2 separate regions of the Homo sapiens genome follow, and region 2 is reported to be linked to region 1. The links are microRNA targets in miRTarBase. Many come from high-throughput screens and were not tested one by one. Region 1 holds a microRNA gene; the other region holds the end of a gene's coding sequence.

The links. The annotated mature microRNA hsa-miR-509-3-5p reads UACUGCAGACGUGGCAAUCAUG and lies in region 1 at 2,128-2,149, shown strand. An mRNA with a match to its seed (bases 2 to 7 or 8) in the 3' UTR can be bound and repressed. Matches are read on the target gene's strand: a 7mer-m8 pairs with bases 2 to 8, a 7mer-A1 pairs with bases 2 to 7 and ends in A, and an 8mer does both.
Region 2: miRTarBase lists TMPPE as a target of hsa-miR-509-3-5p. The part of its 3' UTR that is shown has no 7-base or 8-base seed match.

The regions. Positions count from the first base shown.
Region 1 is chrX:147,254,727-147,261,844 of GRCh38, reverse strand. It overlaps MIR509-3 (microRNA 509-3), which reads left to right and starts at 2,119; the gene lies at 2,119-2,193. It overlaps MIR509-2 (microRNA 509-2), which reads left to right and starts at 2,995; the gene lies at 2,995-3,085. It overlaps MIR509-1 (microRNA 509-1), which reads left to right and starts at 1,220; the gene lies at 1,220-1,313. The region is part of intron 2 of LOC105373347 (periphilin-1); the gene reads right to left.
Region 2 is chr3:33,086,818-33,093,935 of GRCh38, reverse strand. It overlaps TMPPE (transmembrane protein with metallophosphoesterase domain), which reads left to right. Exons shown (of 2, transcript NM_001039770.3): 2 at 1-3,514. The coding sequence ends at 1,102. The region is part of intron 1 of GLB1 (galactosidase beta 1); the gene reads left to right. Among named protein-coding and RNA genes, the nearest start is that of GLB1, 6.8 kb to the left of the region's middle.

The DNA.
Region 1 (7,118 bases):
ATTGTCAGGCTGCACATTTTCCAATCTTTTATGCTCTGCCTCCCTTATAAAATGGAATGCCTTTAACTGCATGCAAGTTACCTCTTGAATGCTTTGCTGCTTAGAAATTTCTTCTGCCAGGTACCCTAAATCATCTCTCTCAAGTTCAAAGTTCCACAGATCTCTAGGGCAGGGGCAAGATGCTGCCAGTCTCTTTGCTAAAACATAAAGAGTCACCTTTGCTGCAGTTTCTAACAAGTTCCTCATCTCCATCTGAGACTACCTTAACCTGGATTTCATTGTCCATATCATTATCAGCATTTTGGGCAAAGCCATTCAACAAGTCAAGTCTCTAGGGAGTTCCAAACTTTCCTACATTTTCCTGTCTTCTTCTGAGCTCTCCAAAGTGTTTCATCCCGTGCCTGTTACCCAGTTCGAAAGTCGCTTCCATATTTTCAGGTATCTTTTCAGCAGTGTCCCACTCTACTGGTACCAATTTACTGTATTAGCCCATTTTCACATTGCTGATAAAGACGTACCCAAGACTGGGCAATTTACAAAGGAAAGAGGTTTAATGGAGAATTCATAGTTCCATGTGGCTGGGGAAGCCTCACAATCATGTTAGAAGGCAAGGAGGAGCATGTCACATCTTACATGGATGGCGACAGGCAAAGATAGAGAGCTTGTGCAGGAAAACTCCCATATTTAAAACCATCAGATCTCATGAGACTTAGTCACTATTATGAGAACAGCAGAGGAAAGACCTGCCCCCATGATTCAATCATCTTCCACTGGGTCCCTCCCACAGCATATGGGAATCATGGGAGCTACAAGATGAAATTTAGGTGGGGACACAGAGCCAAACCTTATCATATGAGATTGATGAGATGGAGGATTATTTACTACTTAATTAATGGATATGGAGAATGCAAACTGGTAGTTAATGCTTTGCAAGTAGCAATGTGAAAAGGAACAGGATAAGACATGCAAGGATATTTCTTCTGTGAGTAACAGAACCTAACAGAAATGTTTAATATTTCTCAGTTCTGAAAACTGTCACGTGAAAGCTGCAACATGGGAGTGGACAGCACTCAAAGCAGGAAACATAAGGAAAGATAGTGGATTGGATTCTGCAGAAGTCCTTTGTCCAAATTCCAATGGCCACCCACAACTTGTAAATATTGAATGGCTGTTTTAAAGGTGAATGGGTGGGTATTAAGGCAAGGCTGCCATCCTCAGACATGCTGTGTGTGGTACCCTACTGCAGACAGTGGCAATCATGTATAATTAAAAATGATTGGTACGTCTGTGGGTAGAGTACTGCATGACACATGCAACATACATGATGACACTGTGTGTGTGTTGGAGGCATTTAGTTGCATGCAGAGGGATGCTTTCCTTACAGTGCAGGTATTTTACCCTCACAAACCCTCCACTTCCATGCTGGACTACCTCAGAAAACTCTCTCAGGTGCCTGACCACCAGACACGTGATCTAGGAATTTAAGGTCCTTGCAACAAGCCTCCCATTGAGTTCTTCTGAGATTGACTTCCATTTCTATGATGTTGCCTGATTGAACCAAGGTTTATCTTGCCATTTTACAGTTTCTTTCTGCCTTAAGAGTATTATTCATTTTGCAGAAACTATTTCCTTCTCCAACATCCAAATCTATTAACGGTTAGCTTCCTTTCTAATTTTCAAGTCTTCTTAAGCCTTCCAAAATTCCCTCCTGCTTCTTAAACACTTAACTTTCTGAAAATCAAAATATTTTCTGTCTCAGATATACAAAGTCCTCTTTCTTCATGTGCTAATAAAGTACATATTCGTTCTTTTGTAAATATATTTTAATCTATTATAAGGAACAGGATAAGACATGCAAGGATATTTCTTCTGTGAGTAACAGGACCTAGCAGAAATGTTTAATATTTCTCAGTTCTGAAAACTGTCATGTGAAAGCTGCAACATGGGAGTGGACAGCACTCAAAGCAGGAAACATAAGGAAAGATAGTGGATTGGATTCTACAGAAGTCCTTTGTCCAAATTCCAATGGTCACTCACAGGTTGTAAATATTGAATGGTTGTTTCAAAGGTGAATGGGTGGGTATTAAGGCAAGGCTGCCATCCTCAGACATGCTGTGTGTGGTACCCTACTGCAGACGTGGCAATCATGTATAATTAAAAATGATTGGTACGTCTGTGGGTAGAGTACTGCATGACACGTGCAACATACATGATGACACTGTGTGTGTGTTGGAGGCATTTAGTTGCATGCAGAGGGATGCTTTCCCTATAGTGCAGGTATTTTACCCTCACAAACCCTCCACTTCCATGCTGGACTACCTCAAAAAACTCTCTTAGGTGCCTAATCAGACACATGGTCTAGGAATTTAAGGTCCTTGCAACAAGCCTCCCATTGAGTTTTTCTGAGATTGATTTCCATTTCTATGATGCTGCCTGATTGAATCAAGGTTTATTGTGCCATTATACAGTTTCTTTACGCCTTAAGAGTATTATTCATTTTGCAGAAACTGTTTCCTGCTCCAACATCCAAATCTATTAATGGTTAGCTTCCTTTCTCATTTTCAAGTCTTCTTAAGCCTTCCAAAATTCTCTCCTGCTTCTTAAACACTTAACTTTTCTGAAAATCAAAATATTTTCTATCTCAGATATACAAAGTCCTCTTTCTTCATGTGCTAATAAAGTACATATTCGTTCTTTTGTAAATACATTTTAATCTATTATAAGGAACAGGATAAGACATGCAAGGATATTTCTTCTGTGAGTAACAGAACCTAACAGAAATGTTTAATATTTCTCAGTTCTGAAAACTGTCATGTGAAAGATGCAACGTGGGAGTGGACAGGACTCAAAGCGGGAAATATAAGGAAAGATAGTGGATTGAATTCTGCAGAAGTCCTTCGTCCAAATTCCAATGGCCACGCACAGCTTGTAAATATTGAATGGTTGTTTTAAAGGTGAATGGGTGGGTATTAAGGCAAGGCTGCCATCCTCAGACATGCTGTGTGTGGTACCCTACTGCAGACAGTGGCAATCATGTATAATTAAAAATGATTGGTACGTCTGTGGGTAGAGTACTGCATGACACGTGCAACATACATGATGACACTGTGTGTGTGTTGGAGGCATTTAGTTGCATGCAGAGGGATGCTTTCCTTACAGTGCAGGTATTTTACCCTCACAAACCCTCCACTTCCATGCTGGACTACCTCAGAAAACTCTCTCAGGTGCCTGACCACCAGACACGTGATCTAGGAATTTAAGGTCCTTGCAACAAGCCTCCCATTGAGTTCTTCTGAGATTGATTTCCATTTCTATGATGTTGCCTGATTGAACCAAGGTTTATCTTGCCATTTTACAGTTTCTTTCTGCCTTAAGAGTATTATTCTTTTTGCAGAAACTATTGCCTACTCCAACATCCAAATCTGTTAACTGTTAGCTTCCTTTCTCATTTTCAAGTCTTCTTAAGCTTTCCAAAATTCCCTCCTGCTTCTTAAACACTTAACCTTCTGAAAATCAAAATATATTCTATCTCAGATATAAAATGTCCTCTTTCTTCATGTGCTAATAAAGTACATATTCGTTCTTTTGTAAATATATTTTAATCTATTATTAGTAAGTCATATATCAGGAATTGTGAATAATGCTGAGAATTTTTTATTGTTTGATTTTTTTGCATTTACTTAAAAACATTTTTTATCTCTAGGTTTTCATTTACTTCCTTTATGTTGTTTCTTTCTCATTCAGTGATGAGAGAGGGTGTATGGAAGCAGAAAATGGGTAAAGGAGAGAGAATGAGAGTCAGAATTAGAGCAAGAATAATCTGTTTTTTTTTTTTTTTTAATCAAGTAGGGTAGAAGTCACAGGTGGACATCTAGGTTTTATTCCAGTTATTCATGGCTAAAAATAAAGCTACTTTGTATATTTGCATACAGATGTATATATGAACACAAGTTTCATTTTCCTTGTGTAAACTGCTACTAGTAGGATTTGAAGGTCACATGGCAAGTGTAAGTTTACATTTAAAATTAATTAAAAAATAATTTCCAGAATGGTTTTACCATTTTGTGCTGCATTAAGCAATGTATTAGTGATCCAATTACCCAACTTCTTATCAGCATTTTGTATTGAAAAGCCTTTGTTTTGTTTTTATTAGCAATTTTAATATGTGTATAGTTCCCTTGTCAGTTGTGGTTTTAATTTGCATCACCTTACTGACGGAAAATGTTGAGCACCTGTACATGTACTTACTTACCATTCATGTATCTTCCTTGGTGAAGTGCCTTTGGGATTTTTCTCACCTTTACCGAGTTGTTCACTTATCTTTGAGGTTTACTATATACATATAGATAGAGATATATAGGTATACTGCATACAATTTCTTGGCCAGAATTATGATTTACATATATTATCTCTCAATCTGTTTTGTTTTTTTCATTTTCAACAGTATTTTGTGCAGAGCAAATGTTTTCAATTTTGATAAAGTACGACTTAACAGTTTTTCAATGTATGCATTATGCTTTTAATGCTGTATCTAACAACTTTTAGACTTAGATGTGAGATTCATGGTTAACTGTGTTTTTCTTTCAGCATTTTGAATATGTTCTACAACTGATTCCAGCTTCCATGGTTTCTCAAAAGAAGTCAGTGTTAAATCTTGTAAGAATCACTTGTATGAAATATGCTCCCTTTCTCTTGCAGCTATAAAGGTATTCTTTCTTTTACACATTCTCTTTCTCTCTCTCTCTCTCCATTAACAGATTGAATACAATGTCTTTAAGTCTGGATATCTTCATGCTTATCTCACTTTTTTGATGTGTACATTTATGTTTTTTATGAAATTTGAAGTTTTTAGCATTATTTCTTTCAACACTATTTTTTTCTGGTTTTCTCTCTCCTGTCCTAATGCTATTTCCATTAGGCATATTTTGGTATGACTCTGGTGTTTCACCTTTCTGAGGCCATGCTCATGCTATGTTACTGAATGGAAAAGTGTAAAAAAAAAAAAAACTTTAAACTATCTTGTTCCAGGAAAATGCTCAGAAAACTCAGGAACAAAAAGAAATATAAGAACATCCCAAGATACCAAGACCATTTTCTGTCTCGTTGATCACTGCTGGTATGTAAAATGAGCTTTTTCGATTACGGAGTCTGGAAAGAAAAATGAGTTTTTACTCCTTCCATTCCACTACCTACTGAACCTACTGATTATTATCTTGTTATTTACTTAGTTGATCTGGTCTTTTTTTTTTTTTTTTTTTCATTTTTTTTGAGATGGAGTCTTGCTCTGTCACCCAGGCTAGAGTACAGTGGCGCGATCTTGGCTCACTGCAAGCTCCACCTCCTGGGTTCATGCCATTCTCCTGCCTCAGCCTCCCCAGCAGCTGGGACTACAGGTAGCTGCCATCACACTAATTTTTTTTTTTTTTTTTTTTTTTGAGACCGAGTCTCGCTCTGTCACCCAGGCTGGAGTGCAGTGGCACGATCTCGGCTCACTGCAAGCTCCATGTCCTGGGTTGACACCATTCTCCTGCCTCAGCTTCCTGAGTAGCTGGGACTACAGGTGCCCCCCACCACGCCCGGCTCATTTTTTTGTATTTTTAGTAGAGACTGGGTCTCACCGTGTTAGCCAGGATGGTCTCGATCTCCTGACCACGTGATCCGCCCACCTCGGCCTCCCAAAGTGCTGGGATTACAGGCATGAGCCACTTCGCCTGGCCAATCTGGTCTTTTTTATCTGCTCATTCTGTGATTCAGAAATTGAGGAACATAACTCAGATAAAAGGACTCAGATCTTTGGGTGACAAGGCAAGAGTGGTGAGATGGAGTGTATTTACTGCTTAATTATTGGGTCTAAAGAAGACAAATGATTTGTTAATGCTTTATATATAATAATGGATAAAAAAAACCAGGACAAGACACACAGGGGTACGTCTTATATATGCAAGAGAACATAAGAGAAAGGCTTAATGATCCCAGCACTTTGGGAGGCAAAGGCGGGAGATCACTTGAGGTCAGGAGTTGGACACCAGCCTAGCCAACATAGTGAAACCCCGTCTCTACTAAAAATACAAAAATTAGCTGGGTGTGGTGGTGGGCACCTGTAATCCCAGCCACTCGGGAGGCTGAGGCAGGAGAATTGCTTGAACCTGGGAGGCGGAGGTTGCTGTGGGCCAAGATTGCACCACCACATTCCAGCCTGGGCAACAGAGTGAGACTCCGTCTCAAACAACCAAACAAAGAGGCTTATTGCTCCTCAGTTCTGAAAACTACCATGTGAAAACTTCAACACACAAGTGGACAGCACTTCAGGGAAGAATGGATGAGGAAAAAAAACAGTGGAGTGTTCACTGTAGAGGTACTTTGAACAAATACTGGTAGCCACTCACAGCCTGAAAACATTGCGTAGCTTTTTAAAAGGTACATGAATGGGTGTTTAAGCAGGGCTTCCATCCTTAGACATGCTGTCTGCGGGGCCTTACTCGAGAGAGTAGCAATCACATATGGTAATGACATATGATTGAAACCTCTACGAGTGGTGTAACACGTGACATATGCAGCATATGTAATATAACTATGGGTGCACTTGAGGGAAGATTAGTTGCATGCAGAGAGCTGTTTTCCATAGAGTACATCTATGCTGTTCACACACCTCCGCCACCCTGCTGGACTATCTCATGGAATCATCTTATGTAAATTTGCAGAGGTAAGTCCTAGGAACTAAAGGTCCTGGAAAAACGCCTTTTCTTGTTTTTATTTTTTCCTGGGATATCTTTTCCTGGGATTGATACCTATTTTTACAAAGTTGCCTGACAAAAATGAAAACCAGGTTTTCAGTGTGGCTATGTTTTTATTCTCTGCTGCAGAGTATTAAGTTTTTACAGAACCTTTTTCTTTCTTGATGCTTATATCAGTTTACAAGTTATTATTTATTATTCCCTCCTCCTCGTTTTCAAGCCTTCTTTTTAGGCCTTTCCAAATCCCCTCCTACTACTCAGATCCCAACCTGCTGACAACATATTTTCTGTCTCAAATATGAAAGCTCATTTTTTTCTTCATTGGCTGAAGAGGTACTCATTCTTTGAAAAGCATTTGAATCCTTTATAAGCCACCAATTTATA
Region 2 (7,118 bases), not on the chromosome of region 1:
GGTGGTTCTGGCATTTCTGGCCCTGGCCCATTCCAGTTTCTTTACCATGTTCTTTTTAGTGGCCGAAGAGCCCTATCTCTTTTCCTTGGCGGCCTACTCCTGCCTGGGTGCTTACATCATCATGCTCTTCTTCCTCTTCATCCTCAGCGGCATGGAGCAGGCCTACCAGCTCTTGGCCTGGCGCAGTGGTAGGGTCGTGGGCAGCCTTGAGAAGACAAGGAAGCTCGTGCTCAGGCCTGCCCTGGCAGTGGGAGTGACTGCTGTGCTCAGCGTGGCCGGGATTCTGAATGCCGCGCAGCCCCCGGCTGTGAAAACTGTGGAGGTGCCCATCCATCAGCTGCCTGCCTCAATGAACAACCTCAAGATCGTGCTCCTCTCAGACATTCACTTGGGCCCCACAGTGGGCAGGACCAAGATGGAAATGTTTGTGAGGATGGTGAATGTGCTGGAACCAGACATCACGGTGATTGTGGGTGACCTCTCCGACTCAGAAGCCTCGGTCCTGCGGACGGCTGTCGCTCCTCTGGGCCAGCTTCATTCACATCTCGGTGCCTACTTCGTCACAGGCAATCATGAGTACTACACGTCAGATGTCAGCAACTGGTTTGCACTTCTGGAATCCCTGCATGTCCAGCCTCTTCATAATGAGAACGTGAAGATTTCCGCCACACGGGCCCAACGTGGTGGTGGTGGCAGTGGCAGTGGGAGTGAGGATGAGGACTGGATCTGCTTGGCTGGGGTGGACGATATTGAAGCAGACATCCTGCACTACTCTGGCCATGGCATGGATCTTGACAAGGCCCTGGAGGGCTGCAGCCCAGACCACACAATCATCTTGCTAGCTCACCAGCCCCTGGCTGCCAAGAGAGCTCTCCAGGCTCGGCCAGATATTAACCTGATCCTTTCTGGGCACACACATGCTGGGCAGATCTTCCCCTTGAACGTAGCAGCCTATCTCCTGAATCCCTTCTTTGCTGGTCTCTACCAGGTGGCCCAGGCTACATTCGTGTATGTCAGCCCAGGCACAGCCTACTACGGGATACCCATGAGGCTGGGTAGCAGGGCCGAGATCACAGAGCTCATCCTGCAGCGGTCTCCCTGAACTGGCCCTGCCCTGTGCACCTCTGCCCTGCCCTTGTCCTCGACCCTCCATCCTGCTTCAGAGTGGTTTGCCTGCTTTTCCCCTCCAGCCTTGCCCACTCATCCTTGCCTACACACCCTTGGTCACAAGCCTGACTCAAACAGTGACTTATGGTGGGCCTGCCTGGCATGTTCAGGCTGGTTTAACTATTTCCTTGGCCAGTTGCTTTTTTTGATGCACTTGTGAGATCACTAAGGTCACATATATTAGCACTCCCCTCTATTTTCCAGATGATGTGGAATGGGGACCTTCTCCTGCAGAGCTCCCAGGGATGAACCTCCCCTCGGGGTTGCTAGAAAGGCATACCTCTAGAAGGTGGGGCGGGGAGGAGCAGGAGCATTTTTCTCCTGGTGTTTTAAAATTGTCTTTAGGACTTAAGTGGTTTCCAGAATCATTGATCCAGAGCCTTTCTGGGGAAGGGGTAGTGTTGCCAGGTAATTTGGGAGAACAGGCAAGATGGAAGGGCCCTCTGGCTGCTAGAGAAGAATATTTTCTTTTCCTCTGATTCTATCAGGATCACCTCTATTGAGGGCATCAGCAAAATCTACTGGAATGCAAAGCTCCTCCTGTTCCAGGCCTTGAGGGATGCTATTTAACTGTCTGTGCTCCTGGGCCTTTGGGGGCAAGGTCAGGGGAGAAGAACGGTGGGCGCCATGGTCGGTGATGGTGAGAACATGGCTGCTTAGGAATTCAGAGGGCTTTGCCTCCCTTGTCTCATTTTATACAACCCTTCGGGGAGCTCACTGGGGACAGGCTGCTTTTCCCTATTTGGAGATAAGGAAACCAAGGCAAAGAGAGATAGGGCACAGGCAGTATGACAAGATATGTAGGAGATTTGGGGCTAGAAACCAGGTCTTGTACCTCCCAGTAAAAGCGGTGCTTTTGCCCTTTTGCCAGAAGCAATAGATCCTTTGATCCTGAGATGGAGATAAGCACCCGTGTTAGAAAAGGCCTCACTGAGAAGACAGGGCTGGGCTGGTTTCCTGCTGGGTGATTTAGGCTTGTGATGGAAAGTCTTCCTCCAATGGGGAGTGAAGACACTCGCTCTGACTGGAGAGGCTAACCCTGCTGCTCACTCATAGGGCAGCGTTGGGTGGGTGACTTTCCCTCACTCAGCCTTGGTTTCCATCAACCCTAAAATGGGGATAATTATCGTATCTACCTCAAGATTGTTTTGTCAGGAGGGATCCATCAAGCCTTGTGCATGAGTTCCACATGGCACAGCGTGCACAGTAAACACTCAATGTTAATTTTTCAACGTTCCAGTGGAGCTTGCTAAGGAACTCTGTTGGGCACAGGTGCCCAGAGGATTCATGGAGCAGCCAGTCCTGGGGAATGTGAGTGGGTAGCGAGCTGCCTGCTGCTGGGGCAGGTGATGTGTCAAAGCAGCAACTGCTAGGGGTTTGCCTTCCTTCCCTCATGTGCATTCTGGCAGGCAAAGGGGGTTTCTTCCTTTCCTCCTTGTCCTCCTGGTGTATAGTGGGGTTCTGGGGGATCTGGAGACCACCCTTTTTGTTCCCAGGCAGCCACGGTATTGACAGTGGGCCATACCATGCAGTTTAAAATGTATCTTTGAGTTGAAATTTTGGTGGTTTCCTTATTCTTTTTTCTCTCTTCACTGTCCTTCCAAACTCACTTTTCTTGTGTCCCGACCGCATTTTGTGAATCATCCTTACTCCCTTTAAGTTCTCGCTTTGGATTTCACCAGGTGGGCTAGATGGTGCCATTTCACTTCCACTGTTTGATGCGGCTGGTAATGTTTGACTCACCTGTTACGTGTTATTTCACTGGTTTCTTGATTTTACATCTTTCTCATCAGTGACCTGGGCTTGATGAAATTAGCTTTCATTAAGTCCTATTTTTTTTTTAATTTTGCATCCTTACCTCTTTTCTTTCTCTTGAATGCCATCATTGTGTGGTCTTATGTACCCTTCATCCACTCTGAAGTCCTTGCTTGACTGATTGCTTTCTATTAGCAGAAAGAAAACAGGTCCATCCTATGTATCTGAGAAACAACATCAACACCCTCTCGTATGTGGTTTGTATTCCCTGACGCGGCGGACATTTTTGCAGCAGAAATTTCTCCATCACTGTCCAGATTCTGGCCCTGGTGGGCAGGTCTCCATGACACCTTTAGTCCCTTTGTTCAACATTCTTAAACCATGGACCTTTTTGTTTGTTTGTGGCCGGGGGAGGTGGTGAGAAACGTTACTTGAAGCTTGATCATTCTTTCAATTTCATTTGTTTCTTTATTTTTAATCTGTTAGATGCAAATTGAAATGCAATGCTTTTTGAAAATCAGCAATAGTGTCTGTAGTATATGATGCTGTCACAAAATCTCAATAAATTGATCCTGCTGCCATTCCTTCCAAATACCCATCCATGCTTTTCTTCCCCTCGTGTTTTGTTTGGTTTGTTTTAAACTTTTCGTACATGTACCTCTCTCCCAGCTTTAACAAGCATGACGAGACCACTCTGCCATCCTTTCTCAGCTACCCCTGCCCCACCTGTACTCTTTATTTTTTGGCTGGAGTATATTAAGGTAAATCATAGAAAACATAATGTTACCCCAAAATTACTTCAGTATGAATCCTTTTTCAAAAAGCATAGCTATAGTGTCATTATCATATCCAATGAAATTAACAGTGATTCTTGAATATCATCTAATAGCTAGTTAGGAGATTTGGGGCTAGTAGCCAGATTTTTGACCTCTTTAAAGAAGTGTTCTTTCCACTCTCTGAGTATTAAGTAGCTGTATCTGTCACAAATGAGTACAGAATTCAAATGCAGTTAACTGTGTGAAGAGTTAGTGTTTAGTTTTTCCTGATTATCTCAACTATATTTTTTATTGTGGCAAAAAAATTACTATCTTAACCATTTTTTTTGTTCTTTTTGTTGTTGTTGATCTTAACCATTTTTAAGTGAATAGTTCAACAGTGTTAGGTATATTCACATTGTTGTGAAATTGATCTAATTGATCTGTAGAACTTTTTCATCTTGCAAATCTATATACCCATTGAGCAACAAGGCTCCATTTCCCCCTTCCTCCAGCCCCTGGTGACCACAATTCTACTTTCTGTTTCTATGAATTTGACTGCTTTAGATACCTCGTATAAGTGAAATCATGCAGTTTTTGTCTTTTTGTGGCGGGCTTATTTCAGTTAGTATAATGACCTTAAGGTTGTGGCACGTGACTGGATTTCTGTCCTTTTTAAGGCTGGACTACAGTAATACTCTTGTATTTTCATGCCACATTTTGTTTATCCATGTTGAGCATGTTTTCATGGGCTTGTTGGCCACCTGTATACCTTCTTTGGAGAAATGTCTATTCAAGTCCTTTGCCTATCTTTAAATCAGGTTATTTAATTTATTGTTGTGGAGATGTAGGAGTTCTTTATATATTCTGGACATTAACCCCTTATCAGATACGTAATTTGCAGATATTTTCTTCAGTTCTGTACATTGCCTTTTCACTGATTGTGACCTTTGATGCACAGAGTTTTAAAGTTTAATGCAGGCCCATTTCTCTATTTTTGCTTTTATTTTGGCATCATATCCAAGAAATCATTGCCAAGTTCAATATCACGTAGCTTTTTTCCCCATGTTTTCTTCTAGGAGTGTTATAGTTTTGGGTCTTACGTTTAGGTCTTTAACCCATATTGAATTAATTTTTGTGTATGGTATAAGATAAGGGTCCAACTTCATTCTCTTGCCTGTGAATATCCAGTTTTCCCAGCACTGTTTTCTGAAGAAATTGTCCTTTTCTAACATCAAGAGATCTTGGCATCTTTGTTGAAAATCATTTGACCATATACACAAGAGTTTGTTTCTTGGTGTTCTATCCTCTCATTGCTCTATGTCTGTCTTTATGTCATTACCATGCTATTCTGATTACCACAGCTTTGCAATATGTTTTGAAATCAGGAGGTATGAGTCTTTCAACTTTGCTCTTCTTTTTCAAGACTTTAGTCTATTTGGTGTCTGTTGAGATTCCATATGAATTTTAGGATAAATTTTTCTATTTCTGCAAGAAATGCTATTGGGATTTTTATAGGGATTGTGTTGAATCTGTGAATCACTTTGGGTAGTATGAACATCTTAACAATATGAACCTTCCACTCCATGAACATAGGATGTTTTTTCCATTTGTTTGTGTCTTCTTTAATTTCTTTTTAACAGTGTTTTGTAGTTTTCAGTGTAGTCTTTCACCTTAGTTAGGCCTATTTCTAAGTATTTTATTCTTTTTGATGCTTTTATATATGGAATTTTTTGAAATTCCATTTAGGATTGTTCATTTTTAGTGTATAGAGAAGCAACTGATTTTGGTATGTTGCTTTTTGTATCCTGCAACTTTGCTGAATTCATTTATTAGTTCTAACAGTTTGTGTGTGTGTGTGTGTGTGTGTGTGTGTGTGTGTGTGTGTGTAGTCTTTAGGGTTTCCTACATCTAAGATTATATCATCTGTGAATCGATCATTTTACTTCTCCTTTCTAATTTGAATGCCTTTTATTTCTTTCTTGCCTAGTTGCTCTGACTAGGACTTCCAAAACTATGTTGAGTAGAAGTGGCAAAAACAGACATCTTGCCTTTTTCCTGATCTTAGAGGAAAAGCTTGCAGTCTTTCACTATTGAATATGATGTTAGCTATGGGCTCTTCACATGTGGGCTTTATGATGTGGAGGTAGTTTTCTTCTATTTTGCATTTGTTGAGTTGTTGGTTTTTTTAATCATGAAAGGGTGTTGAATCTTGTCATGCTTTCTCTGCCTCAATTTAGATTATCATGTGGTTTTTGCCCTTCAATCTGTTAATTTGGTGTATTATATTGATTGATTTTTATATGTTAAACCATTCTTGCATTTTAGGAATAAATCCCACTTGATCATAGTATATAACCCTTTTAATGTACTGTTGAATTCAGTTTGCTAGTATTTTGTTGAGGATTTTTGCATCAATATTCACCAGGAATATTATTGTTCTGTAGTTTTCTTGTAGTGTATTTGTCTGGCTTTGGTATTAGGATAATATTGGTCTCATAGAATAAATTTAGAAATGTTCCTCCTCTTCAACTTTTGTAATAGTTTCAGGAGGATTGGTATTAATTCTTCTTTAAATGTTTGGTAGAATTCTCCAGTGAAGCCATCTGGTTCTAGGTTTTTCTTTGAGTGTGTGTGTGTGTGTGTGTGTGTGTGTGTGTGTGTGTGTGTGTGTGTGTGCGCGCATGCTGAGACATGGTCTTGCTCTGTCGCCGGGGCTGGAGTGCAGAGGCATGATCTTGGGTCACTGCAACCTCCACCTCCCAGGTTCAAGCGATTCTCCTTCCTCAGCCTCCCAAGTAGCCAGGACCACAGGCACGCGCCACCACACCCGGCTAATTTTTGTATTTTTAGTAGAGACGGGGTTTCACCATGTTGGCCAGGCTGGTCTCAAACTCTTGACCTCAAGTGATCTGGCCGCTTCCCCCTCCCAAAGTGCTGGGATTACAGGCGGGAGCCACCGTACCCGGCCTCTTTGAGGTTTTTGATGACTGATTCAATCTTTTTAATAGCTATTGGTCTGTATAGATTTTCTGTTTCTTCATGATTCGGTCTTGGTGGGCTGGGTGTGTCTAGAAATTTATCCATATCTTCTAGGTTATCCAATTTGTTGGCATACAGTTGTTCATGCTATTCTCTTACAATTCTTTATTTCTGTGTCATCAGTTATAATGTCCCCTCTTCATTTCTGATTTATTTATATCTTCTTTTTTTTAAATCTAGTTAAGTTTCTCAATTTTGTTGATTTTTTTTTCAAAAACCAACTGTTTTTTTTTCCTACTATCTTTCTATTCTCTTTTGTTTATTTCTACTCTAATATTTTATTTCCTTTTGCTAGCTTTGGGTTTATTTTTTTCTTCTTATGGAATTGTCTTTTTATAGTTATTTTGTTTGAAACAGGATCTAAAAATAGGTCTATATTTTGCCTGTGGTGTATTTCTT